Linked DNA regions of Homo sapiens. The protein of the gene in region 1 interacts with the protein of each later gene in a pairwise test. Each region holds a gene or a part of one and is shown in the gene's direction. Other genes may lie near its edges.

Region 1 (6,938 bases):
GCCACTCCTTGCTGAAGTGTAAGTGGAACTTCTATTTGGTGAGCTGAGATGGAAACCTAGGAGAGGAAGTAAAGAGTCCCCCACTCACACACTTACACACTCACACACACTCACTCACCCGGTCACACGTGGAAATGAGGCATCTGTACCTGACCGTGCTGGAGAACCCCATAACCTCTGCATCTATTAGTGGGAAAGCAGCTTTTCTCACCAGCCTGGTGGTCTGGATGACTCATGGAGTTCAAGCCCATCGTTGAGGCTCTTTACATGCTCGCACCCAGCTTGGTCTGTCCACGTGCCTGCCTCACCCCCAGTTCAGAGTCCAACTCTCAGTCTACACGCAAACCCCTGGCTATGTGCAAGTCAACAACCAGTGGTTTAACTTGCCCACTGCTGGCAGCTGTATCACCCCCATTTAACACCAATGGTATTGGTTTTGGTGTCAGCCTGATTTCCGTCATCGACGTTTATGCCCACATCCTCTGACCTCACCCCTGCATGCACCCAGCCCTCCTCTCTCCTGTCTACTGGAGTAAAGACTACCTCACAAATTCACTGCTGTACCCAGTGACTAGTATCATGCTGGCTTGGATGCAGAGCCCAATCCACATCTGTCAAACGAGGAATCATTGTCTTCTCCTCTTGCTCTTCTTCTCTATTTCCACCCCTATCCCCCATCAAAATTTGGCCAAGAGCAATGATGAAAACCGAAGCCACAGGTTAGACCCATGTGTCTCTGGATCTTGGCCATCTGGGGTCATGGGAGACCAAGGCCAGTCTGGCTGAATCTTAAGAGTGAATGAAGTCCAGAGCATGTGGCTCTACAGAATGGATTCTTGGAACTAGCCTGGAAGCCACCTTCACATTTCCTTTCACAGTAGAAATTTCCCCTTGCCCTCAGTGAAACACTGCACAGTCCTGGAGAAAATCCGACCCTACCCAGGATGCGTGCTTGGGACCAAGAATTTCATTCCAAGGCCAACCCTGTATTCATGCCACGAAGGGAGTGACACAGTCATGGCTGAGGCATGGGCCTGGCTTTGAACCTCAGCTTGACCACTTATGATCCAGGTGATTGTAAATACATTAGCCATGGTGGCAATGGGGTATAGTGATTAAACTGTTGGGATCAAATCTCTACTCTTATACTTTATATTTTATATATATATATATATATATATATATATATATATATATATATATATATATTAGCCCTCAGGCTGGTCACTTCACCAGCTATTTGCTATCATAACCTCTCTGTGCCTCAGTTTCATTGATGTAAATTGAGGACTACTAATAGTACCTACTTCATCGGGTTGTAAGGAATAGATGAGCAAATGTATGGCTTGGCACTTAATAACACTACAAATTATTAGTGAAAGTATGTTTATAATAATATACTTCTGTGTGGCTAGGCGTGGTGGCTCACGCCTGCAATCCCAGCACTTTGGGAGGCAGAGGCAGGCAGAGCACTTGAGGTCAGGAATTCGAGATCAGCCTGGCCAACATGAGGAAACCCCGTCTCTACTAAAAATACAAAAATCAGCCAGGCATGGTGGCAGGTGTCTGTAATCCCAGCTACTTGGGAGGCTGAGGCAGGAGAATCAGAGGGGAGGCGGAGGTTGCAGTGAGCCAAGATCACGCCACTACACCCCAGCCTAGGTGACAAAGCGAGACTTCTCAAATAATAACAATAATAATATACTATGTGTCATTATACATGATTATTATTATTTTATCATTTTACTATATAGCCTAGCTCGATAACCTGGGGAAAAGGTCACAGCAATGTTCAGCTTACTTTCAGATTGGACAAAGGCTGGAATGCCTAACACCGGGCCACCGCATCCGGAGTGGCTTGGTTATTTTAGGCAGCTGAGCTGTCACTTCCCTGGGTAAGGACACTCACCTCTTGGCACTCTGTCTCCACCCCACCCTCGGCAGGTGTGCCAGAAGTCAGGCGAGATCTCCCTCCTGAAGCAGCAGCTGAAGGAGTCCCAGACGGAGGTGAACGCCAAGGCTAGCGAGATCCTGGGTCTCAAGGCACAGCTGAAGGACACGCGGGGCAAGCTGGAGGGCCTGGAGCTGAGGACCCAGGACCTGGAGGGCGCCCTGCGCACCAAGGGCCTGGAGCTGGAGGTCTGTGAGAATGAGCTGCAGCGCAAGAAGAACGAGGCGGAGCTGCTGCGGGAGAAGGTGAACCTGCTGGAGCAGGAGCTGCAGGAGCTGCGGGCCCAGGCCGCCCTGGCCCGCGACATGGGGCCGCCCACCTTCCCCGAGGACGTCCCTGCCCTGCAGCGGGAGCTGGAGCGGCTGCGGGCCGAGCTGCGGGAGGAGCGGCAAGGCCATGACCAGATGTCCTCGGGCTTCCAGCATGAGCGGCTCGTGTGGAAGGAGGAGAAGGAGAAGGTGATTCAGTACCAGAAACAGCTGCAGCAGAGCTACGTGGCCATGTACCAGCGGAACCAGCGCCTGGAGAAGGCCCTGCAGCAGCTGGCACGTGGGGACAGCGCCGGGGAGCCCTTGGAGGTTGACCTGGAAGGGGCTGACATCCCCTACGAGGACATCATAGCCACTGAGATCTGAGGGGCTGCCTGGGAAGGCGAGTCTGGGGACCTGGCACTGGGAGGCAGGGCTCTCCCGTGCATCCCCCCTGCTCAGCAATTCAGACCCCTCTGAGAGACGCCACTCCCTGGGACACAGACCCAGGACCCCCGAGGGGAGGGCAGGATGGCCTTTCCTTCCCTCTCTGATGTCCCAGTGCTCACCAGCCCTGCAGCCCACCAGACGTCAGGCCCTGACTCCTCTGGCTTTCCCAGGAGATGGGTCCAGGGGTCTGTCTGCTTTGGTTAAGGGCTCCCTAAACTTTGGCCTTTGTTCGAAATAGATATCCTCTCCCCCTCCTCCAGGGAAGGTGGCCACAGCAAGTACAGCGGCTCCCCTCTGCTTCTCATCCCAACCTCTTTTTCCTCCTGGACACATTGGAATGCCTTGGAAATAGAAAGAAGCCATATATGACCAGAAGCCTTGGAACCAGCCCCATCAGAACCTGAGCTATTTTCCTCTGGCCGCAGAGGTGTAGGGGTGGAATGAGCCGCGGGGAAGCTGGCTTTGAAACCTCAGGGCTGTCCCAGCCCCGGCAAGCCACAGGAAGGAGGGGAGAGACAGGCAGCCCAGCAGTGTGGAGACCCTGCCACAGCCAGAGGAGGGCAGAGGGAGAATCCAAGGGTTGAGAGCCAGTGGCGGGTGATGGCCAGCCCCTGGGGCCCAGCCCCTGTTTACTGGTTCTTGCAAATGGGAGCTGAGCAGCCTCTGGACAGCCAGTGACCTTTGACCTCGGTGACCACTCTTCTTTAAGCCATAGACCCTGAGGCCCTGGGCTGGGTGCTGGGAAGGGAGGGTTGAAACCACCGTGAACCAGAGGGTGTGGCTTTCCAGGCACCCTCAGGGAGCCTCCCCATCTGTCCAGCTGGGGCCAGAGGCTGGGAGTCCCTACCTGCTTCACGTTGGCCGGCGGCTACTCTGGAATGTTTTTCCCTCCCCAGAATCAAGCTTTTGCTTGATCCAGAAGAGCCCATATCACTAAGATGGCATATATGTGATCTGGGCATTTTCCTCCTCTGCCTACAGCCAGGTTTAGCGGCAAACCTTTCCCCCTTAGCACCTTCAGGGCTGAGTTCTGGGTTTCTAGAGGTCAGGACGGCTCCTCAGAGCGCCAGGAAGCCAGAGCCCCAAGCAGGACGAAAAAGAGGCATACACACAGCAGTGTGAATAGCCTGGCCACCAGCCATCCTCCCTCCACCTCAAGACCCCCATTTGTCCCAGACTAAAGGATCCAGAGAGCAGCTCCCTTTCTCAGGAGCTTGGGCAGTGCCCCAGGGAGTCCAGGGTTTCTCTGCAGATGTGCGGAGCGGGAGGCGGTGGTAGAGAGAGATAAAAGGTGGAGTTTCTCTGTTGTTTGGTTCAGGGATTTTATTTTTAATTTTATGAGACAGGGTCTTGCTCTGTCCCCCAGGCTGGAGTGCAGTGGCATGATCATAGCTCACTGCAGCCTCATACTCCTGGGCTCAAGCAATCCTCCTGCCTCAGCCTTCCAACTAGCTGGGACTACAGGTGCGCGCCACCGTGCCTGGCTAACTTTTCATTTTTTTTGTAGGGACGGGGTCTCGTTTTGTTGCCAAAGCTGGTCTCAAACTTGTGGCCTCAAGCAATCCACCTGCCTTGGCCTCCCAAAGTGCTGAGATTGCAGATGTGAGCCACCGTGCCTGGCCAGATTTTTCTTTTATTCTTCTTTCTTTTTCTTTTTTGCTTTCTTGTCTTTTCAGAAGCAAGCCAGACCTAGCAGGCTGTTCCATGTTCTATTTTTGACTGTAGCCACAGCTGCTGTTCTCAGGACAGCATCCCTTCCCACATGCCTGCGCCTGCTGCCTGCTGAGATGAGGAGGGGAGCGTCTGGGAACTTGCGAGTCCAAGGCCAGTCCCCATTTCTGCCTCGCTCACCGCTGGCCCTTAGAGACCCCGAGGTAGGGGTGGGGAGATGCTTCTCTCCTTGCCCCCCGCCCTCATGGGTCCTAGCCCTTCCCTGAGTGCGGGCTGAGGCCAGAGTCACCTTTTCTGTGGCTGGCTCTACCTTCCTGTCCCTGAGGTTAAACGGTGCCCATCCTGCCATCCTCAAACGACAGAGGAGCTTTTCTGGAATTTCAAACCATTGCTCTTAGTCCCAAGCTAGGCTTAAACCTGGAATCTACAAGCCAAAAGTCCCTCCCTGCCTGAGGGCAGTACCCTCCATTGGGCACAGTCCAGACCCAAGTCAAAGATGCCCCATTCCTTGCGCCTCAGCCCTCAGTTCCTTCATTTCCACCAGGCCGTGCCTTGTTTGAGTTTTTCCTCCCAGTGAGACTGCCCCACGGAGACAGAGGAAAGGGCTGGCTCCCCCTCCCCAGGCTGGAGACCCCCCCCCAACTCCAGGAAAGAGCAGTCAGAGTCCAGTGCTCTGCCTCAGACGTTGCCTGAGAAGAAGTGGCTGCCACACCCAGGGGAAGGCCCTGAGGCGGAGGCTGTGCTCCGCCATGGTGTCCCGGTACCTTCCATACACAGAGGAGTGCAGCCTTCTCCATATCTCCATGGCCCTGTCCCAGGCCGGCCCAGATGTGTCCCCCCCAGGCCTTGTCCTACGTCCAAGGTGGCAGATGTCTTCCCTGGGCTGCCACCAGCCCCCGCCCCAGAGTGGCCCACCGTGGCACTAGAATGCAAGTATCCTGCGACCTTGCAACCTCACCTTCCTGTGGGTGTTCTTTCCTGCCCTGTCCAAAAGCGCCCTCACTATTCTTGGACCATGCCAGATTCTGCCTCTCTGGAAAGAGGCTCTGGACAGCAGAAGCCTCCAAGCACAGAGCCTGGCCCCAGGCCCCAGACAGGGTGGGCTTCCTGCCCTTCCCTCTGGGCACGCCTGCTGGCCGACCCACTGACCCACTCGGATGGACCAACCTGCTCTGTCCCCAAAGGACGCCTGCAGGAGAGAGCAGCACTCCGCATCACCTCACCAAGGATCGGACTCTGCCCCTGGACCTGGGAACGACTGGACTGTCACGGGGTTCCCTCCTAGCTCTCCCAGTGAACTCCTGCCAGGCACACACAGCCCCTATAGCACTGAGCTCACATGGGACTGGGATATGGGGGCATCTCTTCCCCAGAGAGGCACTCAGTGAGCCTCCTGTGCCTGGCCCCAGCCTGGGCCATCTCTTAGGTGAGACAGTTGCCCGAAACTAAGCCAGGCCTGGCTGGAGGAGCAGCAGCTTGGGGAGAGGGATTTCCCTGCAGACCTCAAGCCATCATGCGGTGGGTGCTGCCATGACAGAGGCTGCACCCCTGGGCCAGCGGGGCTGCTCACCCACCTCTTGTGCAAGGTGGCCTTTGTGCTGCGCCTGCAGGCAGAGCTGGAGCCCCCAGCAGAGGCAGGCTGGGACGGACCAGCATCTGGAAGATGTACATAGTTATTTTTCTCTTTGTGGTTTCTTGTTTGGTTTGGTTTGCTTTTGACAGCTTCATTTTATTTTTGACGTCACTTTTTGGCCATGTAAACTATTTGTGGCAATTTTATGTTTTTATTTATGAATAAAGAATGCCATTTCTCACGCCCTCTAGAGCCACGTGTATCTGCCCTCCTCTCCCCTCGCTGCGGTGTGGCAGCTCCCTGGGACTTCTCCCCTTGGAACAGGAAAGATGACGTCCCTTCCACCAGCGAAGGGGGTGAGGAAGGCAGCACAGGGCAGTGGGAAAGGGGCCCCCGGGGTCAGACAGGCTTCAGCTGGCCCCTGCCCCCATCGCCTACCCCGGGACCTTATCTGTGAAATGAGAGGAAAAGGGACCCAGGGACAGGTGTCCATGTAGAGTCAGAGCGTCCTCTCCAAAAGAGAGCCCCTCCCCACCCAAACTGCATGCCCTACCGTCTGCTCACCTCACCAGCCAACTCCTGGGTCTACTGCATATGGCCTCCTGGCAAAAGACCAGCATGGCTACAATTGCCACTGCCCCAGGGCCCCCTGGTGGGGCAGGTGCAGTCACCATCATGGCCATCTGTCCAGCCTTCTTGGTTCCAGCCTACCTGGTGCCCCCTTGACAACCTTCCCTACCATCCCGGGCCCACAGCCTAGGCCCAGAGGGCTGCTGCTCAGGTGGTGGGAGACAGAAGGGACATGTTACGAGGAAATTGATAATGCAAGGCAGCATAGGGGGCACATAAGGGGCAGATGACAAGGCCTCTGCGGTGGGGAAGGTTAGTGTAGACGGGGGTCCGGGGAGATGCAGGCAGGAGAAGACCTGGGGCAAGGGTAGGACACAAGAGGAGCGGGAGAGAGGAGAAGACCAGAAAAGTGTCTCCGGGGCGGGCGTTCACACAGCTCCCTGCCCACCTGTGATGGGAAAAGAGCAGCACCGGG
Region 2 (7,492 bases), on another chromosome or scaffold:
CTTATAGCAACGAAGAGCTCGCAAAGACATGGGCCCAAGTCATTGCTCTGACTGCACCCTTGAGCATATCGAAACCTGGGGGCTCAGTCTTCAGATCTGTAAAATGGAAATGAAAATAGTGCCAACGCCATCCAGATGTCAGGATCCAATGAGCTCATATGCACCAAGCACTTAGAATGCTACTCAGCAGATTTAGAGGCAAATTGTAAGTAAGCTCTCAATAAGTATTAACTTGTATTGTTAATTCTAACTTGGCTGGAGGTAGAAAACTATTAACACAAGAAAAAGACTTATCTGTTGCCCAGTATAAAGAATATATCCTGGAGATTGTCACTCCATATATCATACAGAGCTCTGTAATTAAGGAACTTCTCGATGAGATGTCATATTGCTGAGCTAGAGGGCACTGGACTCTAATAGAGCAAGGTATTTTGAAACTGCTTTTTGGCTATCTCAAATTATCAAATCACTTTCCTTCCTTCCTTCCTTCCTTCCTTCCTTCCTTCCTTCCTTTTTCTTTCTTTTTTGAGACAGTCTCACTCTGTTGCCCAGGCTGGAGTGCAGTGGCATCTCAGCTCACTGCAACCTCTGCCTCTCGGGTTCAAGCGATTCTAATGCCTTAGCCTCCAGTGTAGCTGGGGTTATAGGCACTCACTACCATGCCTGGCTAATTTTTGTATTTTTATTAGAGATGGGGTTTCACCATGTTGGCCAGGCTGGTCTCAAACTCCTGGCCTTATGTGATCCATTCACCTCAGCCTCCCAAAGTGCTGGTATTATAGGAGGGAGCCACTGTGTCTGCTCAAATCACTGATTTTTAAATTACTATTTAAAGAACCGTTTCTGTTTATACCTCATTGGCCACACTCAGTCACGTGACCTCACTCAGCTGCAAGGGAGGCTGGGAAATGCATTCCCCATTTTGCATAGACATGTACACAACACAAAATTAGACACTGTGCTCCCCAGGGAGAAGGCAAAAAGGGTCACTGGGGGCCTACTGGCACTCTCTGGCACAGACAGCTTTTAATATTTCTAGAAGTTGAGAGGAGGCTAAGGTCTGAAGGAGAAAATAGGTAATAGACAGCTAAAGAAAGGGTGAAGAAGGGCCAGGCAGGTTAAGGGAATGGGCAGGTGCAAGGCTGAGGCTTCCACAAAGGAAGAAGCTTGGTGGAAGGCCAGTGGGGAAAAGCGGGTAGTGGTGGAAGAGAATAAATAGAAGAGGGCAAGGAGTGAGCCAGGCGGGGCCTGGGAAGCCATGCGAAGATATTTAGACTTCCAGTATCATGGGAGCCTTAGCAGCATTTTAAACAGGGAAGTGACGTGATCCAATTTACATTTTGAAAAGGTCATGCTAGCTGTTGCCTGACAGTTAATTTGAAGGGAAGGAGAGATGTGGAAAAACGAGCTAGGGAGCTATGGCAACCTACTCTGGGCAGATCGGAAGGATGTAAGAAATGAGGGGAGGAAGGGATTAGTTTTTGCTTCATTGCTATCTTGATAATTGCTTTGTACAGACATTTAGCTCTTTCTTGTTAGTTTCCCAGAATGAAGCCCCTGAGTGATGATTTTTCTCTCATTTGGGCTGGTTCTAGTCTGGTTGCAATTATTATCAGTTTTTGCACATTGGCAACAACATGCAACTTAACAGCAAATAAAATAAATAGCTGAGATGCAGAACTGAACAGATGGAGTCACCCCCTCCTCCTCAGCAAAATCAGCAGCATGGGCTCTGCTCCCCACCTCCCACCCCATTCCACCTCCCCCTTCCCGATTTTTTTTTTCTGGAACTTTAATATGCGTCACACCCATCCAATATAGCCACAGCTGGCCTTTTTCATATTTATATCTGTCTCTAAAGCTTTGCATCAGGAACTTTGGAACAAGATCTGAAATACAAATTTAATGTTCTTTTCCTTTACTTTCAACTTTCATTTCCTTGATCCTGAAATGGCTCGAGTTTCAGGAGCAGCAGAAAGGTGGAGACCAACAAGAACAGCTCAGGTAAGGGAGGGCACAGGGTACCATGCCTCAAAGAGCTTTCTACTCTGGATATAAGAATAAGATCCCCTCCAGCCCCCATCCTGGTTGTCCTGGTGCTGTCAGTATTGCCATTGTCCTTCCATGCCTTAGTTTGAATTCCTTTAGGCTCTCTGGCCACCACAATCAAGTTGGCACCAAGTCCTAACCAATTTCTTTCTTTGCAATGTATCTTGTATTCTTTACTTCATTTCTACACCCACAGACCCTACCCCAGCCCAGCCCTTCTCATCTCAAGCCTGTAGCACTCTTCCATAAGTTCATTTATCCATTTATTCATTCAAAACCACGCACTGAGTGCCAGTTACTGTGATGGGCTCTAGGGCCACCATGTAGAAAGACACCATGTTCCCGCAAGAAGTTTATAATTTGGTGGTGTCAGATGGGAAAATCCCCGAATTACAAAATGTCTCCTTCCAGGCAACATTCAAAGCTTGTGCCTAGGGTGCCAAAGGAGCACAAAGAAGGGGGTCCCTCATTCCTGCCAGGAAGCTTGCCTGGGAGGCATGGTTTCTGAACTGAGTCATAGACAATGAGTGCAGGTGAGCTGGCTGAAACAGGTAACGCAGGGCATTCTAGGAAGAAGAGACAGAGTCTGCAAGAGGGAGCATGACACATTCTGGAAAAAGCAGCCAGTTCCCTATTTCCAGGTTCTAGTTCACCCCAAATCCACTCAATTCGGCATGCATGGCCCTGCACAATCTTCCCCCATCTCACCCATCTCACCTGCTCACTCACTCTTCCTCTAATAGCAGCCCTCTGCCTAATCATCTTCTCTAGCCCAAATCTTTTGCTCCAGCAAACCTTAGCCATCCCATGCCTCCTTCATCCCCCATCCACTCCCTTCCCCCGATGCTTCACTCTAAATCCTCCCTATCCTTCTAAATCCTACCCTTCACACAACACCTTCCTGCCAGGCTAATCCTTCCTCGGTCATAACCTCTCTTTCATTATTCCCTAGTTGTTTTATAGGTTTGAGGGATATTTCTTCAGTGAATACTAAATTGTTTTCAGGCTTCTCAATTATCCACAGCATGAAGCAGAGGCCTGAGAACACAATGGGAGGCAATTAATACCCATATACCATGGCACTAATAAATTATTCCTTCACGTTGGCTCAGTAGGCAGCCAAAATATCATAAGATATTTATAAATTTAGAGAAGGCTGTAGGTCCCAGGGGAACTCTGCTAACTTTCGTCTAAATCAGGGATTACAAATGCATAGGACTGCAGGTGGTATAAATGGGTAAAGGGGGCAGGGCGCGGTGGCTCACGCCTGTAATCCCAGCACTTTGGGAGGCCGAGGTGGATGGATCACGAGGTTAGGAGTTCGAGACCAGCCTAGCCAACATGGTGAAACCCCATCTCTACTAAAAATACAAAAATTGGCTGGGCATGATGGTGCGTACCTGTAGTCCCAGCTACTCGGGAGGCTGAGACAGGAGAATCGCTTGAATCTGGGAAAGTGGAGGTTGCAGTGAGCCGAGATCACGCCACTGCACTCCAGCCTGGTGACAGAGCGAGACTCAGACTTAAAAAAAAAAAATGGATAAAGGGCTGGGTGACATGGATGTAAGAAAAGGTTAACTTTTCTCTAAATTCTGTTATAAGTAAAACAACTGCTGGCAGCTGACACTTGGTGTCAAAACTGAGAAGACAGCAGGGAGTGGTGGGGATAGTGGCAATGAGAAAGTGAAAGCTTCAATTAAGACTTCCATTCGTTGTTGCCATGCTGGAATCCAGGCCAAATATTCTGATTTTTCAAGAGAAGCCAAAAGATCTGGACATATGTGGCATACCACCTTCCCATAAAATATTCAAGCATAGTATTGGCTAACACTTAGTGGGCAAACAAAACATATCTGCAGACCACATTCAGCCTGGAGGCTGCCAGCTCACAGCCCCTGTTCTAAATGGTGAGCACAGCTGTGGCTGCCTCACATTTTGTCCAAGCCTAAGAATGTTTTCTCATGTTATGCGACTAATGACATGATGGTGACTCATTTCTCTGCATTTAAACATACATTCAAACACACATATGTATAAACATACACACTCAAAACATACCCCATGACATTAGGGTTGAAGAAAACAGATGTGAGGAATATTTCAAACATTTCTGGGACTTGAGAAAACAGCTAGAATTTTAGGGTCGCAGGGTATCTGGCATCATGGGACCTACCACGGCCAAGATGTTCCTAGGCTGAAATTGAATTGAAATTAACCATCCCAGGTGGCCTCCAGGCCCTCTTTTCTCATTCGGCGAGGGAGTGTAGTCTCTCAGTTTAAAAAGACTGTTATACCCCAGCCTCTGGAACTTTTGGATGAAAAAGAGACTTAAAATTGGAAAAACCAGAGGCCCAACAGCACCTGTGTGGCTGAATCTTTCCACTCACCACCAGCAGGTGGTATGGCCTATTATTGCAGTGCTTCCCAAACTTTAATGTCCAAACAGTCCCCCATAGATCTTGTTAAAAGGCAGATTCTAATTTCTTGGGTCTAGCGGGATTGAGACTGCGATTCTAACATGCTCCCAGGTAATGCCCAAGGTGCTGGGCTGTGGGCCATCCTTTGAAGAGCCAGGGCCAAGTGGACCAAGAACAGGCTCTAGCTTAAGGTCTTCTGGGTTCAAGGCCATTGCTAGTTCAGCTAGATGAGTCTCCTGGGGAAATCCACTCAGTTAACCCATCTGAATCATATTGGGTCTCTCCTTTTACTGGTGCTGTCTTGTTCACGTGACATAGTGGTAAGAACGTGGACTCTGGAGCCAGGCTGCCAGGCTTGGAATTCTGACTCTGCTTCTCCTTGTGTGACAGTTGGTAAGTTACTCACCCTCTCTGACCTCACAGAGGTGAGGATTAAAGGACCATGAATGCACGTAATTGTTTGGAATGGTGCCTGGCACATCGTAAGCACCCCCCCAAATGTCAGCTGTAACCTGTAAGGGCTCTGTGAACCAGCACACAAGCAAATGCATTTCTTTACTTGATCTAGGGAAAGATTCTTCCCGTGAAGACAGCATCCCTTGCACCTGTGACCTACGTTGGAGGGCTTCATTCACGTACGGAGAGTGGGAAAGAGAGAACCCCTCCGGCCTGCAGCCCCTCTCACTACTCAGCACTCTGGCAGCCTCCACCGGGCCACAGCTGGCCCCACCCATAGGTACAGCAATGGGAGGAATCCCCTGCCATTGTGGGGCAGCCCTGGCATTCAGCCTCAGGGCTGGGTCAGATCCTGGGGTCCTGAGGGTGATTCCAGAAAGTTGTGGGGTGTGGTCGAGGAATGCTGGCCACAGAGACCTCAGCCCTCTTTTCCCAACTGGGCTGAGCAAAACCATGATGTGTGGCACCTCCAGGGCCCCCAGAGTTCCCCCAGATGCTGTTGACGCTATAGCTGCTTTCTCTTGCTGTATGGGAGGTGTAAGGGATCTCCTCTGCAGACTCCCCATGTGGTCTTTCCTCTCTTTTCCTTTCCTGGAGCTCTTGAAGGGCCTTCTTACTGCTTGGGTTGGGATGCAGAGAGTGAAAAGGAAGTAGGTTAAGGGGGCTGGGGTGGGGTCAGACCTCCCTAAGGTCCCAGTCCTTCTGTCTTCATGCTCAAGGCCCATTCGTCCATCCACACATTCATTTAACAAACATTTGTGAAGTACTTCCTATGTGCCTCTGTTTGACCAGAGATAGATTTCCCTAAAAGGGAGGGGTGATTTCTGTTTTCTAAAGTAAAATGTCATGAATAAACCACCAACTCTTTTTTTTTTGAGACGGAGTCTCACTCTATCACCCAGGCTGGAGTGCAGTGGCATGATCTTGGCTCACTGCAACCTCCGCCTCCCAGGTTCAAGTGATCCTCCTGCCTCAGCCTCCTGAGTAGCTGGAATTACAGACATGCACCACCACGCCCAGCTAATTTTTGTATTTTTAGTAGACACAGGGTTTCACCATGTTGGCCAGTCTTGTCTCGAACTCTCGACCTCAGAACTCTCAACCTCAGGTGATCTGCCCACCTTGGCCTCCCACAAAGTGCTAGGATTACAGGTGTGAGCCACTGGGCCCGGCCACCACCAACCCTTATAAGATACCTATTATAGATAGTTGACAATTTTTTTAAATTAGCATAAGTATCTGTGTGCCCACAAAAGAGCTTTTTAGGTAATTTATATCCTATCAAACACTTTTCTCTCCTACACTCACAGGAAATTCTATTTGAGCCACCCTTCCGCACTGGGGAGAATCTATGCAAGCCTCGTCAACACCACTTTGCAGCATTCAGCTGCTGAGGGATTATCGGGATGGAGAGTAGGAGAAAACTGCAACCAAGGAAGAATAGAGTCATCTCACGGTGACAGCAGAGCCTTTCCAGCTGTACATAACCACGTCCTCGCCACTGCACCTCGGCATATGCCACCTCCATGCCACTGCCAGAGCTGGCCTAGCAAGATGTGCTCTCAGAATGGCCGGGCCCAAGAGATGAAGGAAAGGAGTGAAAGGGAAGTAGGACCAGAGAAGTGGAAGGAAGCAAAATGGAGGTGATGAGAAAGGTGGTGGGAGAAAGTCAGCAGATGAGAGACACAAAGAGAAGTGGTAATAGGAAACGGAAGAGACTTGGTAGACGAGATAAGGAGGACAAGAGAAGGGACACACCCCTGAGAGATGCTCACCAAGCTTCTATTTATCTAATTTAAAACTTGAAAGTAAAGCCATAAACAAAAAAAAGAAATGTTTTCTTCCCTGCTCAGACCATTCTGGACAAATGTGAACTGCCAGACACCTTCCATTTCCCTTTCTATCTGTTTTTCTTGCTAGTTCCTGTCTTCTGATTAAAGCTTCATTCCTTCTTTGTTGGCCTGTTCCCTAACTTGGACTTGCTAGCCCTGTTGTTCCTAATAGAGGTTTGGGTTTGAGCTGCAGAAAGGTTCTTATAGGAGGTAGTAAGACAAGGTGTGTAAGGTAGGGCGAATTTCTCTTTTGTGTTCAAATTCCCTAAGTTTGCTATTATCTCCGTGCCGCAAACACTGGCTCAACTTCTTTTTTGTATAACACTCCCTTGAAATGTCGACATACCTTGTTAGTGCTTTTTAAATTAGAGATTCCAGAGATAGGAGATATAGGCTCAACATACAGGTTAATCAGAGGTTTACCAATTATAGATGAAGGGAGTCATGAAGGAGTGTTTGTCAGATGGTCTATGGACTGGCCTCTTTGTTTAAAATGTGCAATAGTGTCAGGAGCAGTAGCTCGTGCCTGTAATCCCAACGCTTTGGGAGGCTGAGGCAGGTGAACCACTTGAGCCCAGAAGTTTGAGACCAGCCTGCGAAACATGGCGAAAACCCATCTCTGCCAAAAATACAAAAAAATTAGCCAGGAGTGGTGGTGTGTGCCTGTAGTCCCAGCTACCAGGCAGGCTGAGATGGGAGGATTGCTTGAGCCCAGGAGGTCGAGGCTGCAGTGAGCAA
Region 3 (7,639 bases), on another chromosome or scaffold:
ACCCCTAGCCTCTGAGGTCCCACTGCACTCAAAGAAGAGCAGAGCTCCAAATGACCTTGTCATCTTTCCCCTATTACCCAAACCTGTTCAATTTCCCCATTTCTGTTTATTAAAGATCCATTTTCTCAGTTACAAAGATCCAAGACTCCTCGAGGGTATTCTACCCTAACGGAAATAGGACAGGCTTTGTAGTCAGACTTGAACCCTGGCTTTGGCGACTACTAGCTGTCCTGCCTGGAGAAGTTGCGTACCCTTCCTGAGCCTCAGTTTTCCCTTTCATTGAATCAGGATGATAATACACACTTCATTCATCCACTCAGCAAGTGTTTACTGGGCGCCTCATACACAGCAGGAACTGTTCTAGGCACTGCGGATACGTAGACGTCAACAAAACAAACATTGCTCTTGCCTGAAAGGGGCTTACAAACTTGAGAGGGGGAGACAGACACCAATCAAATAAGCAAGTACACATATAGTATGCCAGATGGCAATATGTGCTAGGGAGAAAAATAACACAGAGTGAGGGAAAATGGAATGCGCTGGCCCGGGTTATTAGTGTCTTACTCAGGTGATGAAGGAAGACCTTTCTAATAAGAAGAACTCACATCTGGGGAAGAATGTTCCCGGAAGAAGGAGAAGAGCAAAGGCCCTAAAGCAAGAGTTTGAAGAATGACAAGGGGTCCTGTGTGGATGAAGCAGAGGGAGGGAAGGAGGAAGGGAGTGTAAGAGAAGGGGACACAGAGATGGCTAGAGCCAGATATGCAGGGCCTTATAGGACTTTGGCTTTTTACTCTGGGCAAGAAGGAAACCTTGGGAGAGCTTCAAGCAGAGGAGCGAAATGATCTGATGCAGGTTATGAAAGGATCCCCCTGGCAGTGGCACAGAGTATGGCCCCTGACCTGTGTGGATGGGGCAGAAGCATAAGGCTGGCCATTTGCATCCCACAAATGACCTCAGTGTGAGGGATGAGCGAGATCATATACGAATGCGCTTGCGTGAGTATGCATAGAGCAAGTGCTCAAGCCATGGCAGCTTCTATCAATGGCCCTGCAGCTGCCTGGCTATAGCTCCCTGGTCTCCTGCAGACAAGTCTTGGCCAGTCACGTGAGTGCCTCTGTCATTGCCCACTCAGTCATTCCCCCTGCCCCCACCTCCTTTCTTCAACCCTTCACTGGTGGTTAAGCTCCTAGCACAGCAGCCTCACCTCCAGCCTCTCCCCACCCCAACCCAACCCAAATGCAACTCCACTCACATCCTTCCCCTGTTCAAGAGTCTTCCATGGACTAGTGGCTCATTAAATCCACATTCTTGGCTAGGTGCAGTGGCTCACACCTGTAATCCCATCACTTTGGGAGGCCAAGGCGGGCAGATGGCTTGAGCCCAGGAGTTTGAGATCAGCCTGAGCAACATGGCAAAACCCCATCTCTACAAAAAGCAAACAAACAAACAAACAAAAAACAAAACAAAAGAACAAAACAAAAATTAGCCAAGCGTGGTGGCACACACAGCTGCTTGGGAGGTTGAGGTGGGAGGATCACCTGAACTCAGAAGGTCAAGGCTGCAGTGAACCACAGTATCACCACTGCACTCCAGCCTGAGCAACAGAGCAAGACCCTGTCTCAAAAAAAAAAAAAAAAAAAAAATCCACATTCCTGGAGACTTGCAGCTAAGGCCTTCCACAATAAGATGCTGCATTTACGTTTCCCACCCATAATCAACTGCTATCCCAAACATATTGAATATCTGTGGAGAAGTATGGGTGGGTGCAATATGTCACTCCTAGCAGAATCACTGAGGAAACTGACCACACTCATGATGGAAAATTGACGGTAATGAGTCCTTCCCTCAGGTTCCCCAACCCCACAATATGCCCTAACCATGGTGGACATGTATTCCTGTCTGTCACTGGCTCACTTCTCCCACCAGGCTACCGCAAACTCCACAATGATGTATATTCTCTTAAAGCTACAAAATGGCTTGTGGTTTCCAAATCAGTTTTCCTTACTGCTCTTATCTCCCTTGATACTTGCCCCTATGGGCCCCTCATCCATAATAAAATGCCCTCATTTTACACTTACTAGTTCTGACAAGAGTCCCAGGTTCCAAGTCATGGATTCCCATGTGGGATTGCTCCTCTGATCCTTCATTCCTATATCTTTTTTCAATCTATCCACAATTCACAAGGCATCGGTGTCAGACCAATGGCAAATAATAAGTGGGACCTGCTGGCTATGGATGGAAGAGCGAAGTCCCTGACAACATGTTTCTACCAGCCTGGAAATGAGGCTCTCCCATCCCCTAACACATCTACCAGTTGTGATGGATTTAAAGGCTGGCTAATGTTAAGCTTGTTCCACAGGGGATAGAATATTGGCCCCTGGACTGACACCTACCACCATGTGGATCTTGGAGCAAGACAAAGGAGCCCCCCAACATTCGTGTTCTGAAATAACAATGCCTGAGGCTGTCTATTCCCCACCACGGATGCCAAAGCACAGACAGCCACTCACAGCTGTGGGATACAGATGCCCCTGTCATTATAAAAGGCCAGCCCTAAATGCTATTACAGAGTCTAAAAACTGAAAATGTTATTGTGAAACCTTTAGGTTTTTTATAGCTGGCTATGCCTGATATAGCTGGTGGCCTGGGACACAGTTTCCCTACTCAGCGCTGGGACACCTCGGCAATACTGCACCCACAGTGTCATCCCTATCTGTTTGGAATGTACAATTCTTCTACAACACCATGGGCCAGGAATATCACATCATCCTGAGAAGCCATCAGGACAAACAAAAAGGAATGTGGTCCTGTATGTTTAGTCCCACCTCCCCTACAAACTACTTTTATCATAGAAATGATGCCCAATTGTCAGCCCAGCGCATGTGGTGTCCTCCAGCACCCCTTCTAAATGTGCCCTCAAGCACCCCTTCTGCTTTGTGCATCTTTGTGACACCCTTCCAGATGTCAGCCTATATCTCCATGACCCAAATCTGACTTAAGAGTTGTGGCCGGGCATGGTGGCTCATGCCTGTAATCCCAGCACTTTGGGAGGCCAAGGCAGGTGGATCACCTGAAGTCAGGAGTTTGAGACGAGCCTGGCCAACATGGTGAAACCCCGTCTCTACTAAAAATACAAAAAAATTAGCCAAGCTTGGTGGTGGGCACCTGCAATCCCAGCTACTTGGGAGGCTGAGGCAGGAGAATTGCTTGAACCTGGGAGGCAGAGGCTGCAATGAGCCAAGATTGTGCCATTGCACTCCAGCCTAGGTGACAAGAGCGAAACTCTGGCTCAAAAAAAAAAAAGGTGTACCAGCCCAGGGAGACAATGGCCACATTGCAGGTGATGACCACAGCCCAGCCAACCACTGCATCCTGGAGGCTGCCCACCAGTTACCCACATCATCTACCAAGGGACCCCCTTGCTGGAGCACAAACAGCTTCCCTTGGGGGATCCCTCAATCAGCATTTGTCACATACCTGAAAAGGGTGGCCACCACACAGGCCACCAAAGTTATAACTCTCTCCTCTCACTTCCTCCCCATTGGGCACAATAAACCTCATTGCCATTGTGGCTGGAACTTCCCTTCCTGGGCCTCCCAAAGCAATTCTACTGCCTAAGGCTATCTCCGGGCTAACTTGTATGTACACAGAGATAAAGCCACATCCCAGTGGCTGGACCTCATGCAATGTTGGGCCTCCTATCTGCCCCCATGAGCAGGCCACTCCCTTATTTGCACCACAAAACCACCAACACCAAACACTTCTGGTCTAGGCTCCTAGGTCTTGCCCTGTCCTATGTTGGCTCAGATGTTATCCAGTCTGGTCCCCGGCTCATGAGTCCAGATCATACATCTATCCAAATGTATAAATACATGCCTATGCTTGTATCTTCCTAGGCCCACACAGCACAACTAGTGTCATGGCCCACCCCAGATATTAAAGGAACACAAGAGATTGGAAGCCCCAGAGGGAACCTGCTTCACCTGTTCCACTCCTAGATAACTTCTTCCTGACGTCCCAAATACCTAAACTCACCTGCACACTGCTAAGTCTGACAACCCCCTTCACATTTTTCTGACTGTTCTGCAATTTAACCCTGCTGGTCACAGTCCCCAGTCAGAGGTGATGGGCAGTCTTCCTACCCATTGTCCTGGGTATAAGCATGACTTGGGGCCAGAAGAGTGGGACTAAGGTCTTACAATATGATCACACCAGGAAAACTAGCAGATACTTCAGAGAAAGATCCGAGGTCCTATCAGCCCACGTAACACAAAAAACAGCAGCACTGGAAGCTTTCACTGAAGGGCAAAAACCCCTAACTGCCAGGGTGGCAGATAAGAGACTAGCTCCAGATGATATGCCAGCTTCCCAGAAGGAGTATATGCTCTCAGAGGGCATAGTGTATCCTGCTGGACGTGGATAAATATTGCAAGGCAAAGTAATCCAAATAGCCCAATGGATGTACCACCAAACAGAAACCAAATTCTACATGTGGTACTCTGAACTCCCTAGGACTTGGATGTCCCCTGTAGCCTGGGGTGACCTTGTTTTAGGAGCCCTCCTGCCCACAAGTAGACTTACATACTGCACTGGCTATGTAAAATTGGTACAGCCTATATACAAGTATATTAGCTCTTTGGATGGTGAACCAAATGTTAGGGAGTGAATTTTGAAGAAATTGAGTTGAGTGCAAAAAGTTGCTCCCAGCAAAATGTCATTTGTCCAAATAGTTAACACCCACTGGGGCAGAAACCATCAGGGCACCCCACCCCTCACCACCCACTCAGCCCCACTCACCTCTGCAGCACCTAGTAATCATATGCAAGAAAACTCACCCTTACTCTTTTTGATTGACCACCCCCAGCCTGACCCCCAATGGAGCAGATCACTCAAAATTAATCTTCCCCCACTACCTCCTCTCGGCATTATTCAACAGGTGGGCCCCTGTCCTATATCTACGTAGGTCCCCAGCACCAGGCTCTTTCTCCTCCCCAGAAGTCAGGGAGTCCTCTTCTCAGTGGGGCCCTCAACCAGTGGCTTCCCTCGCTGCCTATGCCTGCATAAGTAATACACCTTTGAATTGCCTGTGATCACCGGGTCAGGTGTGGTGCGTTTTGGCATCCAAGGCTTTTAAATGGGAGAGAACAGCAGATCTGGTTCCTTTCACTGGAATATTGTTATGGTCCAATTCTGCAACCAGCTGACTTCATTACTACCTGTGAACTGCACCTCCAGCTCCTCCAACTGACCCCATACCCAGACCCTTACTTGGGCTGTTTCCTACCAGACACACCTGCTCTGTTAAGAAAACCATTATTGAAATCACCGGCTGTTAATTCCTACTCAGTCCTTAGTAGCCCTGTGAGCTGGAGCAAGTTCTGTAGGCTTTCTGTGACTCAGTTTCATCACCCATAAAATTATGATTACAATACTTACTTCATTAGGGTGTTGCAAGGGCCTAAAAAACACTCTATGTATAGCTCAAAGTACAAGCCTGACAACAAAGGAAGTTTCCAGATAATCGCTCATCAAGGGGCAACTCGATTTTCTGCTTCCTCCAGAAAGCCTTCCATGCTGATGTCCATCCACTCTGATCTCTCCCTAATCCAATCTGATTGCAGTTTTGATCAGCACCTCACTGTTGACCATGGATTTCTTCTCCATTACAAATGTGTTCATTTTGACTTCCAAGTAAGAGATAAAGGTCTTGGAAAGAAGTGATTGCATTTTACCTGGCTCTCCTACTGACTTTCTGTGTCATCTTCCTCTTAATTTTGGGGAGACTGAGTTTCTTTCTCTGGGATGGCAAATACATGGCCTATGTGCCAACACTTTCCCATCCTGAAACCTCAGGACACACACCAGTGTTCTCATCTTCTCTCCAGAACCTGGGTCCAGACTCACAATTCTTCTTAACACAATACTTTGGACAGTGTCTACTAACTTATCTAATAAATATGTTTTGAGTACTTCGTAGGTACCATCCCCCTTGGTCAGTTTCTAGAAGTTAAAACGTTGGACATCTTGTATCTGCACTTATGGAACTCATCCCTTAGTGGAGAAGAAAGACAATATGCAAATACACAAATAAGAAAATATCAAGTAGTGACAAATATAATGATGAAAATTAAATAACGGTGTGTTAGTGCCTGGGGAGGAGGCTATTTTTTAGATCAGGTATCCAGGGAAAGGCCTTCTGAGGTTTCTCCCTTGATCTGGGAGATTGGGTGTGGGCCTAAGAATATGTATTCCTAACATGCAAACGTAGGAAATTTGGGAAACACTGGCATAGTGAATGAGGTGAGGGCATAGTCAGAAGACCTAGGTCTAAATTCCGTCTCCTACATTTATGCAGCTGTATGACCCTGGGAAAGTTATTGAAATTTCTCTCTCACTTTCCTCCTCTGTAAAATTGGAATAATATTACTGATCTCAGGAGGTTTCTTATCAGGATTGAATAAGATCAAGTATTTAAAATGCCTGGCACATAATAAGTGCTCAATAAAAGGTAGGCATTGTTTGCCACAATTAGGTCTATCTATTTATAACCGTAATCTTTTGTTTGAATCACTCAAGAGACAAATCCAATAAATGCCGCTAGGTAATACGGTGTCTGCGTGTTGGCTTTTGCCTCATGAAGCTCTTCCTCTTGAAAAATAAATTTTCAAAAGACATTCCTGTGAGCAAGAATGCCCGAGTCTAAGGAACAAGGGTCATCCAGTTCTCTAGTTTAGGCATGTTTGAGATTTGAAAGGGCTTTGGCCTAATTTCCTCTCCTATCAAATGGGCACCAGGCTACCTGCCCTTTTTCACTCATGGGGGATTTCTGAGACTCAGAGGGATAAGAGATTTGCAAAGCGTGAGACACAAACAGTTGCAGATACAGACAGAACACTTGCTTTCTCAGACCGGCAGGTGCATACAATGGCAAGGCCACCTGATACACCAGTCCTGTTCATTTGGAAAAGGGACAACTCCTTCACATTCACAAGCTGGGCTGGTAAGTGAAGAATAAGAAGAAAAAAAAAAGAAGTCGGCAGGAAGCAGCCTCTTCAACCAGCAAAGAAACCGTTAGAATCCATCCCTGCGCCCTGATGCCAAAGTTCCGCCTGCCCCACCCGTCACGCTATCAAGGACACCCGCCTGCTATCAGAAAGCCCTGGGGGTCTTTTTCCCTAGTTTATCAAGGACCTGTGGAAACATTTCTCTAACTGAAGATAAGAATTTTTTTTCTCTCTCTTTCTCCTTTCTACTTCTAGCTGTCTAAACCAGAGGGTTCCTCTCATTTTCTTTCAGTAACAACTGCTCTGAAAAGAAGATATTTTTCAACCTGAACTTGCAGTAGCTAGTGGAGAGGCAGGTAAGGTGGGTTTCATTAATTCATTTGTTCATTCATTCATTTCTTCCATTATTGTATGCTTCCTGCATGCCAGAAACTGGGCTAAGAAGGCTCTTGGATTTAATCCTGGGCAGAATGAGCTTGAGGTCTTTGGGGAAGCCAGACTGCACTTAACAATTACAAAATGCGGAATTGTAAATTGTGATCTGAACTTGGAGTGAGAGCATACATATTTGAGCTGAGAGACAGTGTGTATAATAATTTTTTAGATTTGGCTCTTGCCCTCCAAGTGGACGTTTT
Region 4 (7,639 bases), on another chromosome or scaffold:
TTCCGTTTTTCTTATGGGCAGATGAAGGAAGTTAGGCCCAGAGAGACCAGGGGGATATGCTCTGGACCCCATAGCCACAGGACTGCAGACCTGGAGTCTGGTCCCAGGCCCCTCCCATGGGGCTGCCCTGGCTCAGGCTTCCCCCAGGATGCCAGCCTTTCTCGTGGGAGGTCTCTAGACCCAAGGGTCTCTAGATGCTCTGGGGCCTTCTCAGCCAGGCTGACCCTGGTGTTCCATGTCTTGGTGGACATGGGACACTTTGGCAGAAGCTGTGTGGCTTCTATAAGAGTTCTCCAGAGCCAGGAATCAGTTCAGCACCCCAGAAGAGGGAGGGGTGTCCAGGTCTTAAGGTAACCTGCCTGTGCAGAGGCCAGCCTGGGCACGGGCAGTGGGGAGGGGGACCTGCGGCGGCTGGCAGCTTCACCCCTCATGGCTTCCACAGGGTCCTCTAGGTGCCAGATGCCTCCAGTGAAGAGATTGTCGACCAGTGCTGGAGTTTACAACCCTGCGGGAGCCAGGACAAACATGCTGGGGTCTGAGCTCGGAAGACCAGCCTGTCCAAGAGCCAGGGTAGATGGAAGAGAGAGTGGGACAGCTGCTTCACGTGCTGGGGCCTCTCACTGTCTCCCTTCATTTTGGGCTATAATTTAGTGGGCTAGGGTCTCCCCTGAGTACGGAGGTTCCAGCCATTCACCCATGTTCTGGTAATAGCCCAAATATAGAGCCCTGGGAGGGGCTCAGGACCACTGGGAAGGGAGCCAGGCCTGCTGCAAGCCTGGCTGAGCAAAAGGAACGTGAGCCTTGTAGGGGCTGTAGCGGGGGCCTGGCCCAAGATTTTCCCAGTCGGTGTTTGAGTGCGTACCTCTGCTGGCTGCATGCTCCCTGCACAGGGCCTAAGGACAAGGTCATGCCCTTGGAGCCCTACCCTGGTCCAGGTCCCACTCTGGGAGGCCCCTCATTTCCCCATCCAGCTATTTTAACTCCTCTCCCATTTCCCCACACCTCCCTGTAGGCCAGGACTTGGAAGGAGCCTCACAAGACCCCTTCAGTTCTCAGGGGTATCTGCTCCCCAGCTGCCCTCCTTGGGCTCTTTCAGAGCTCTGTGCCAGGCTGGGCCCTGCTAGAAGAGACACAGGCAGGCCCGAGGACAGAGTCATCCTGTGCCCCATCCCTCTCTCAGACCAATTAACCTTTAGAGCTGCATTAAGGAAATTAGGCAGCACACTCACCAGCTAACAGACAGGCCCTGCCGGGACTGCAGGGAGGAGAAGGAGGAGGGAGCCACTGGCCCTGCACACTGTAGCCTGTGGGTGGGCGCCAGCTCCCCAGACTCACCTGTCCAGGAGAAGTCTGAGGAGCCAGCTGGGCTGAGAGCGAGCACAGGAGAGGAGAAGGAGCCCTGGGGCCAGCTTGACGGTGGCTGACTCAAGCCCCTGTAACTGTCTGAGCCTCAATTTCCCCATCTGTAGTATGAGAACATTTAACTGGGAGAACTCTGAGGGCTCTTCTGACCTTACATCTGTGGATTCTGAGACCAAGGCCTCTTGTGGCTTGTTCTCCCCTAACGCCCAAGGAGGAGAGAAGCAAAAGGAAGGGAAGCAGCCCAACCATTCAGACTCTGGGCTGGGGGCAGTGAGGAGGGCTGGGAATGGGAGGGACACCAGGGGATGGGAGGAAGGCCAGAGCCCTGGAGAGAGCAGGGGTCCTTTGGAGAGGACGGGGCCAGTAGAAGGACAGACTCCAGGGGAGTGTTGGAAAGCCGGGGAGGTGGGGAGGGGTGGGCCCCTATCCAGCTGCGCCTTGGTCAGGAACGGAGCATGCACACGCTCCCTGTCTTCACAAGGGTTCTCAGGCAACTGCCACAGGCTCCCGCCCTGTCAAGTCACAGAGCAGGGCTTCTGAGGTCCTCTGCACTTCCCTCCCAGCCTCACGGGTCCACATGGATGTCCAGGCTACTGGACGACATATGTCCCCATCTCCTCCTCAACGGTCCCTGTGGTTCCAGGAGAAGGGACTAGGAACCCGTGCCTCTGTCACTTCATGCCCACACCTGCACGTCGTGCCTGTGTGTGAGGGGTGTGTGTGAGCGCACATGCTCGCCTGCCGCGACGGGAGGCTCTGCCCTGTGGTGAACATCACATTGGGCCCTTTGTACTTGGTGCCTGTGTGTATGTTGGGAAGCTGGTATGGGCCCTGGGAGGGACTGATGGCTGAGAGATCCTAATCCTGGTAGAATGAGGAAGGATCCAGAGGCTCAGAGCCTGCCCTCCCCCAGGCCAGGGCAGGTGAGGTGTGACACCGCCTGAAGCATTCCCAAGGGGAGCCCCAGCCAGGCCCTGCCAGCTGCCTCCGCTTACCTGCCAGGAGCCCCAGAGCCTCTGCTCCCTCCTGGGAGTGTCCCAGGGGCGTCTCACTTCCTTCTTGATGCCATCACAGCTCTACATGGATAGACCAAGAGGCTGTAGCACTTCAGCTGGAGAAAGACGAGTTGGCACAAAGATCTGGGGGTTCTAGAGGACCTCGTGGGCCTGAGGAGACTACATTTCTTAGGCTTATTGCTGAAAGAGCCAATGTGATGGTGGCTTCACAAGACGAGCTTCAGGCTTACTCCGGATGAGACCGCACAGGGGATAGAGGCCATGGTAGGGAGGAACAACTCAGGGAGGCCAGGCCTGGGGTCTGTGTGTGCCTTGGAGCAGAGCAGCCTCTGGAGGGACCTTCACAGGGCCAGGGAAACAGGCTGTGCCATGTAGCCCAAAGGGCAGGACCCGGAGCCAGGGGAGGAGGTTATTGGGGAGAAAGCGAGGGCTCCTGGGAGCCCCAAACCTAGAGGGGGCAGCAGAGAGAAGCAGTGAGCTCCCCATTCTTGGGGGATATTCCTTGAGGCCCAGAGCTACGGGGCCCATCCTGCGTTGCTGTCTGTCTGTCCGTCTGCAGGCGTGCCGATGCTCTCCGTCCAGCCCAAAGGGAAGCAGAAGGGCTGTGCGGGCTGTAACCGCAAGATCAAGGACCGCTATCTGCTGAAGGCATTGGACAAGTACTGGCACGAAGACTGCCTCAAGTGTGCCTGCTGTGACTGCCGCCTGGGCGAGGTGGGCTCCACCCTCTACACCAAGGCCAACCTCATCCTGTGCCGACGCGACTACCTGAGGTGGGCTGCCAAACCCTGGCCTCCCAAGCCCTTGTCCTGCTCAGAAAGCTCCCCATCCTCAGCCCCAGCGTGACTGTGCCCCCGGCCCTAGACCCAGTACCCTGTGTGTCCTCTCATTCTTGACTGTCCTGCCCCTGCCCTGCTTGCCCCAGATACCTGAGAAGTCACCTGAGGGGAAGGCCCAGGTCGTTATGCCCTTGGACTCGGTACCCAGCACAAGTCCAGGGCAGGCATTTGTAACCTGGGGCCCCTAAGTTAAGCTTTCCGAGGGCCCCAGTCTGGCTCCGCCCCCCTGCCTTGGCCAGGTGCTTCTGACCCACCTGATCTGGAATCTGGGAGGGGATACCTCAGAGGGGCTTTGAGAACAGGTGTGGAAGCTTTGACTTCCCCAGGACCCTCCTCCCTAATGCAGTCTCTTTCCATCTCCCAGTGTCCAACTTTCCTTTCTAGATGGTCCTTGGGAGCAGGCATCCATTTGCCCAGGGAAACTGGCAGGCAGCCATATCCTAGGAGCAGGGCCACTGATGCTGGAGCTTCAAGACCTGGGTTGGAACTAGCTGTGAGCCTTTGGCTCCTAATCTTCTCCCAGCCTCAGTTTACTTCCCCGTGAAGGGTGAAAGAATGATGCTTCCCTGCCTTGCATTCCTCTGAGCTCTAACTCACCCTCCCTACAATTTGGATCCTATTCCCTGGGGCCACCTCCCCCAATTAACCCTCCCTGAGGCCATTTATGACATCAGCAAGGCTGGAAGGAGGCCACAAAGCAGGGCCTTGGCTGAGACCCAGCACCTGCATTTGGCTCTGTCGCAGGCTGCTGGATGGTTGCCGGGCTTGTGGGGAAGGAGGGCTCATCGCATTAATTAACAGGTCGGGGCAAGGGCTTCATGGGGCTCCCTCTGCCCAGGTCTGGGCATGTTGCAAGGGGGAGGTTATCAGTGGAAGCTCCCTCAATTCCCCAAAGATCCTTTGACTGACCTGCCTGCCCCTTTTAACACCTGCATTTAAAAGTGATGCAGTAAAACAGAAGCTGTGACTTAGTGCTCCTTGCCAGGGCTGGAGGGGAGAGGCTGAGACCAGAAGCAGGGGTTAAGGAAGAATGTTCAGGCTAGGCGCGGTGGCTTATGCCTGTAACTCCAGCACTTTGGGAGGCCGAGGCAGGCACGTCACTCCAGCTCAGGAGTTCGAGACCAACCCTGGGCAACATGGTGAAACCCCGTTTCTAAAAAAAAAAAAAATTAGCCAGGTGTAGTGGCTGCATGCCTGTAGTCCCAACTACTCAGGAGGCTGAAGTGGAAGGATTGCTTGAGCCCAGATGTTTGAGGCTGCAGTGAGCTGTGATTGCGCCACTGTACTCCAGCTTGGGTGCCAGAGCAAGACCCTGTCTCAAAAAAGAAAAGAATGTTCCTGGGGATTCACCCCTTGAGGACCTAGAAGGGGCCTCCATGTCTGGAGGTTTAGGGCATCACCTGGGGGCTGACTCTACCAGGTTAGGACGATGTGGCAGACCATCTGATGGGTTCACAGGACTTGGAGAGAGAGGCCCACAGTGTAGGATGGGCTTATCAGGAAAAAGCACCCTCAAGCATATAGGGCCCTGCCAGCTACTAGGGATGGAAGGTAATTTTTTTTTTTTTTTTTGCTCTGGCAGAGGCAAGGAGTGACTGTAGGACCAGCTAGACCAGTGGGCTGGGATGCGAGCGTGGCTTCCTTGAGCTGCTCAGGCCTGGAGAATGGCTGTCCAGAGCCTGCGCCCTCTGCAGCAACTGTTCCTGGGCCGATGGCAAGAAAAGCCCCTCTTGGCAGGCAGATGCTGTGGCCTAGCCTTTGTCTGCCTTAATCTGAGCCACCAGGCAGCTCAAGCTGATGAATAATGGAGCCAAGCTCATCTGCAGGCGCCTGAGTTTGAGCTGGACAAATCGGGGATTAAAGGGGCCCCCCACCCTCTTCTCAGCCTCCTTGCCTCACTTGGGGCTTGCTCTGTCTGTGTGCAGGAAAGAAGCAAGGAGGAGCCGGGATGGCTCAGACCATTGGGACATCCAGCCAAGGGCTGGCCTGCATGGGGAGGGAGTAAACTCCCTGTCCCTAGAGCTTTACAGCCAGCAGCTAAGAGGAGGGGTGCCTGCCTCAAAGAGGCATTTGTGCCAGATGTCCTTGGCGCTTCCTTTGGGCATCAGTTCTGTTTTACAGCATCTTTGAATAGGATCATCCATCCCTATTTTACAGAAGGATAAACTGAGGTTCAGAGAAAGAAAAAAAGGGACTTAGGCAAGTAACACAGTGAGTTTGTCATGGAAAAAAGATTTAATAAAACACTTTAATTTTGGCAAGGCACAGTGGCTCACACCTGTAGTCCCAGCACTTTGGGAGGCCAAGGCAGGAGGATCAGTTGAGGCCAGGAGTTCGAGAGCAGCCTGGCCAATATAGTGAGACCCCATCTCTATTTTTAAAAATCAAATAATAAACACTGTAATGTTAAAGGTGGGAAAAGCATGTCATGCAGTGGTTTAGAGCACGCCTTCTGGACCAAGGCCCTGTGACTGTCCAAGTTGTTTCTCTGTGACTCATATTTTAAATCTTTAAAATGGGGAATAATAATAGTACCACCTCCTAGGTTTGTTGTGAGGATTAAGCGTTTATCTTTGTAAAGCTCTTAGATTAGTGGCTGACACATAGTGAACACTACCTAGGTGGTTGCTTAGTGAGTTGTGACTGAGAATTTACAACAGGTTTCACAACTACCCCATAAAGGGTGTGTTTCAGGCTTTGTTTTACAGATGAGGTAAATGAGGCTCAGAGAGACTCACTGACTTGCCTGAGGGCACACAACCCAAGATTCAGTCTGCCCCTGAAATTCAGGCTTGCTCAGGGCCCAGCCTAGGATTCTCTTGGTGGCTCCAGGGCTTGAGGACCCTTGTGGGAGCCTGGGAGGGGGCCTTGGGATGGGCAGTGGCAGCCAACTCCTGACCCCCTACACACCCTCCCTGGAAGGGGATGTGCTGATTTATTGGCAGCCTGATCTCTGGGCAGAATCTAGATGCTGCCCTCAGTGCTCTTATCCTATTGCCTGAGCCCACCTGCTGAGCCCACAAGTTGGAGTATGGGAAGGACCCTGGATGGAGGCAACTCCTTTCCCCCTGCCCACCCAGCTTCCCAGAATGCTGCTGAGTCCTCTGCGCCCTTCCCTCGGCAGGCTCTTTGGCACCACAGGGAACTGTGCTGCTTGCAGCAAGCTGATCCCAGCCTTCGAGATGGTGATGCGGGCCCGGGACAACGTGTATCACCTCGACTGCTTCGCCTGCCAGCTCTGCAACCAGAGGTCAGTGCTGGACTGGCCGACCCAACACACTCCCCAGACGCCAGCCTGAGGCCTGCTGGGATGGGCCAGGAGCACGGCGGAGGCGTGCACGCAAATGCGGGTTGCGTGTGTGTATGTGGTGGTGCGTGCAGGTTATGAGCGTGCATGTGCTTTATGTGTTTTATGTGTGTGTAAGCTCGGTAGCCAAATGTGTGCACTTTAATATTGGGTGTGCACATCTGTGTGGCACATTTCTGTGTGAATATAATGAAGGCGTGCATGAGTTTACTGTGTATGCATAGTTGAGTGTGCATGTGCATGCATGTGTATTTGGAAATGTACAAGTGGGCACATGTGCATGATGGAATTAATATGCATTTGTACATGTGTTTTTAAATGTCTGGGGGTGTATGTGTATGTGCAACGTGCATGCATGATGAGGTGAGTATGCATGTGTGTATACATATTTTATTTTTTGAGATAGTCTCACTCTGTTGCCCAGGCTGGGGTGCAGTGGTGTGATCTCACAATCTTGGCTCACGGCAACCTCTGCCTCCCGGGTTCAAGTGATTCTCCTGCCTCAACCTCCCAAGTAGCTGGGACTACAGGCGTGTGCCACCACGCCTGGCTAATTTTTATTTTTATTTTTATTTTTATATTTTTAGTAGAGACGGGGTTTCACCATGTTGGCCAGGCTGGTCTTGAACTCCTGATCTCAGGTTATCTGCCCACCTCAGCCTCCCAGATTGCTGGGATTACAGGTGTGAGCCACCGCGCCCAGCCTGTATACGTGTTTGAAACGTGCATGTGCATGGGATAACGTATCCTCCCACCCCCGTACCCAGTGTATAGTATGTGCATGTGTGTGCATGTATGTTCCAGTGAGAAGGGGTTCCCAAATCTGGAGGGCAAAGTCCCCTCAGGGAGTGGCCACTCTCTCCTCACCCAGCCCTTGTGATTCTGGTTCCAGCCCAGCCTATTTTCTGGTCTCTTGGCCCCAACTCTGTGCCCTAGCCCTGTGGGAGTCCCTGGGGACCTAAGGAGCCAGAGCCCTTCAGCCCTGGCTGGGGCCTAGCACCAGAAGGCAGGCGCTCTTCTCAGGAGCCCCCAGGTCAGGTAGGAACGCATACAAGTGCTCCCTGAAGTGAGGTTCAGAGGGACCTACAGGGAACGCTGGTCTGGCTGGGGGCTCT

What was found.
Region 2: the proteins of LZTS1 (region 1) and GARIN1B interact in binary tests that used the Homo sapiens proteins (3 or more experiments, as listed by UniProt).
Region 3: the proteins of LZTS1 (region 1) and LMO2 interact in binary tests that used the Homo sapiens proteins (3 or more experiments, as listed by UniProt).
Region 4: the proteins of LZTS1 (region 1) and LMO1 interact in binary tests that used the Homo sapiens proteins (3 or more experiments, as listed by UniProt).

What each region holds. Positions count from the first base shown.
Region 1 is NC_000008.11:20,245,370-20,252,307, reverse strand, and holds the end of LZTS1 (leucine zipper putative tumor suppressor 1), read left to right. Parts: intron 1-1,944; coding exon 1,945-2,586; 3' UTR 2,587-6,143; downstream 6,144-6,938. UniProt on the Homo sapiens protein: Involved in the regulation of cell growth. May stabilize the active CDC2-cyclin B1 complex and thereby contribute to the regulation of the cell cycle and the prevention of uncontrolled cell proliferation. May act as a tumor suppressor.
Region 2 is NC_000007.14:128,724,868-128,732,359, forward strand, and holds the end of GARIN1B (Golgi-associated RAB2 interactor protein 1B), read left to right. Parts: exon of another isoform or gene 1-205; intron 206-1,348; exon of another isoform or gene 1,349-1,954; intron 1,955-1,960; coding exon of another isoform or gene 1,961-1,966; coding exon 1,967-2,004; intron 2,005-5,034; coding exon 5,035-5,202; intron 5,203-6,232; coding exon 6,233-6,246; 3' UTR 6,247-6,876; downstream 6,877-7,492. UniProt on the Homo sapiens protein: RAB2B effector protein required for accurate acrosome formation and normal male fertility. In complex with RAB2A/RAB2B, seems to suppress excessive vesicle trafficking during acrosome formation.
Region 3 is NC_000011.10:33,881,545-33,889,183, reverse strand, and holds part of LMO2 (rhombotin-2), read left to right. Parts: intron 1-6,907; exon of another isoform or gene 6,908-7,000; intron 7,001-7,244; exon of another isoform or gene 7,245-7,296; 5' UTR 7,297-7,360; exon of another isoform or gene 7,361-7,365; intron 7,366-7,639. UniProt on the Homo sapiens protein: Acts with TAL1/SCL to regulate red blood cell development. Also acts with LDB1 to maintain erythroid precursors in an immature state.
Region 4 is NC_000011.10:8,225,803-8,233,441, reverse strand, and holds part of LMO1 (rhombotin-1), read left to right. Parts: exon of another isoform or gene 1-570; intron 571-1,335; exon of another isoform or gene 1,336-1,463; intron 1,464-2,357; exon of another isoform or gene 2,358-2,473; intron 2,474-2,937; coding exon 2,938-3,151; intron 3,152-3,163; exon of another isoform or gene 3,164-3,881; coding exon of another isoform or gene 3,882-4,018; intron 4,019-6,341; coding exon 6,342-6,467; exon of another isoform or gene 6,468-6,588; intron 6,589-7,639. UniProt on the Homo sapiens protein: May be involved in gene regulation within neural lineage cells potentially by direct DNA binding or by binding to other transcription factors.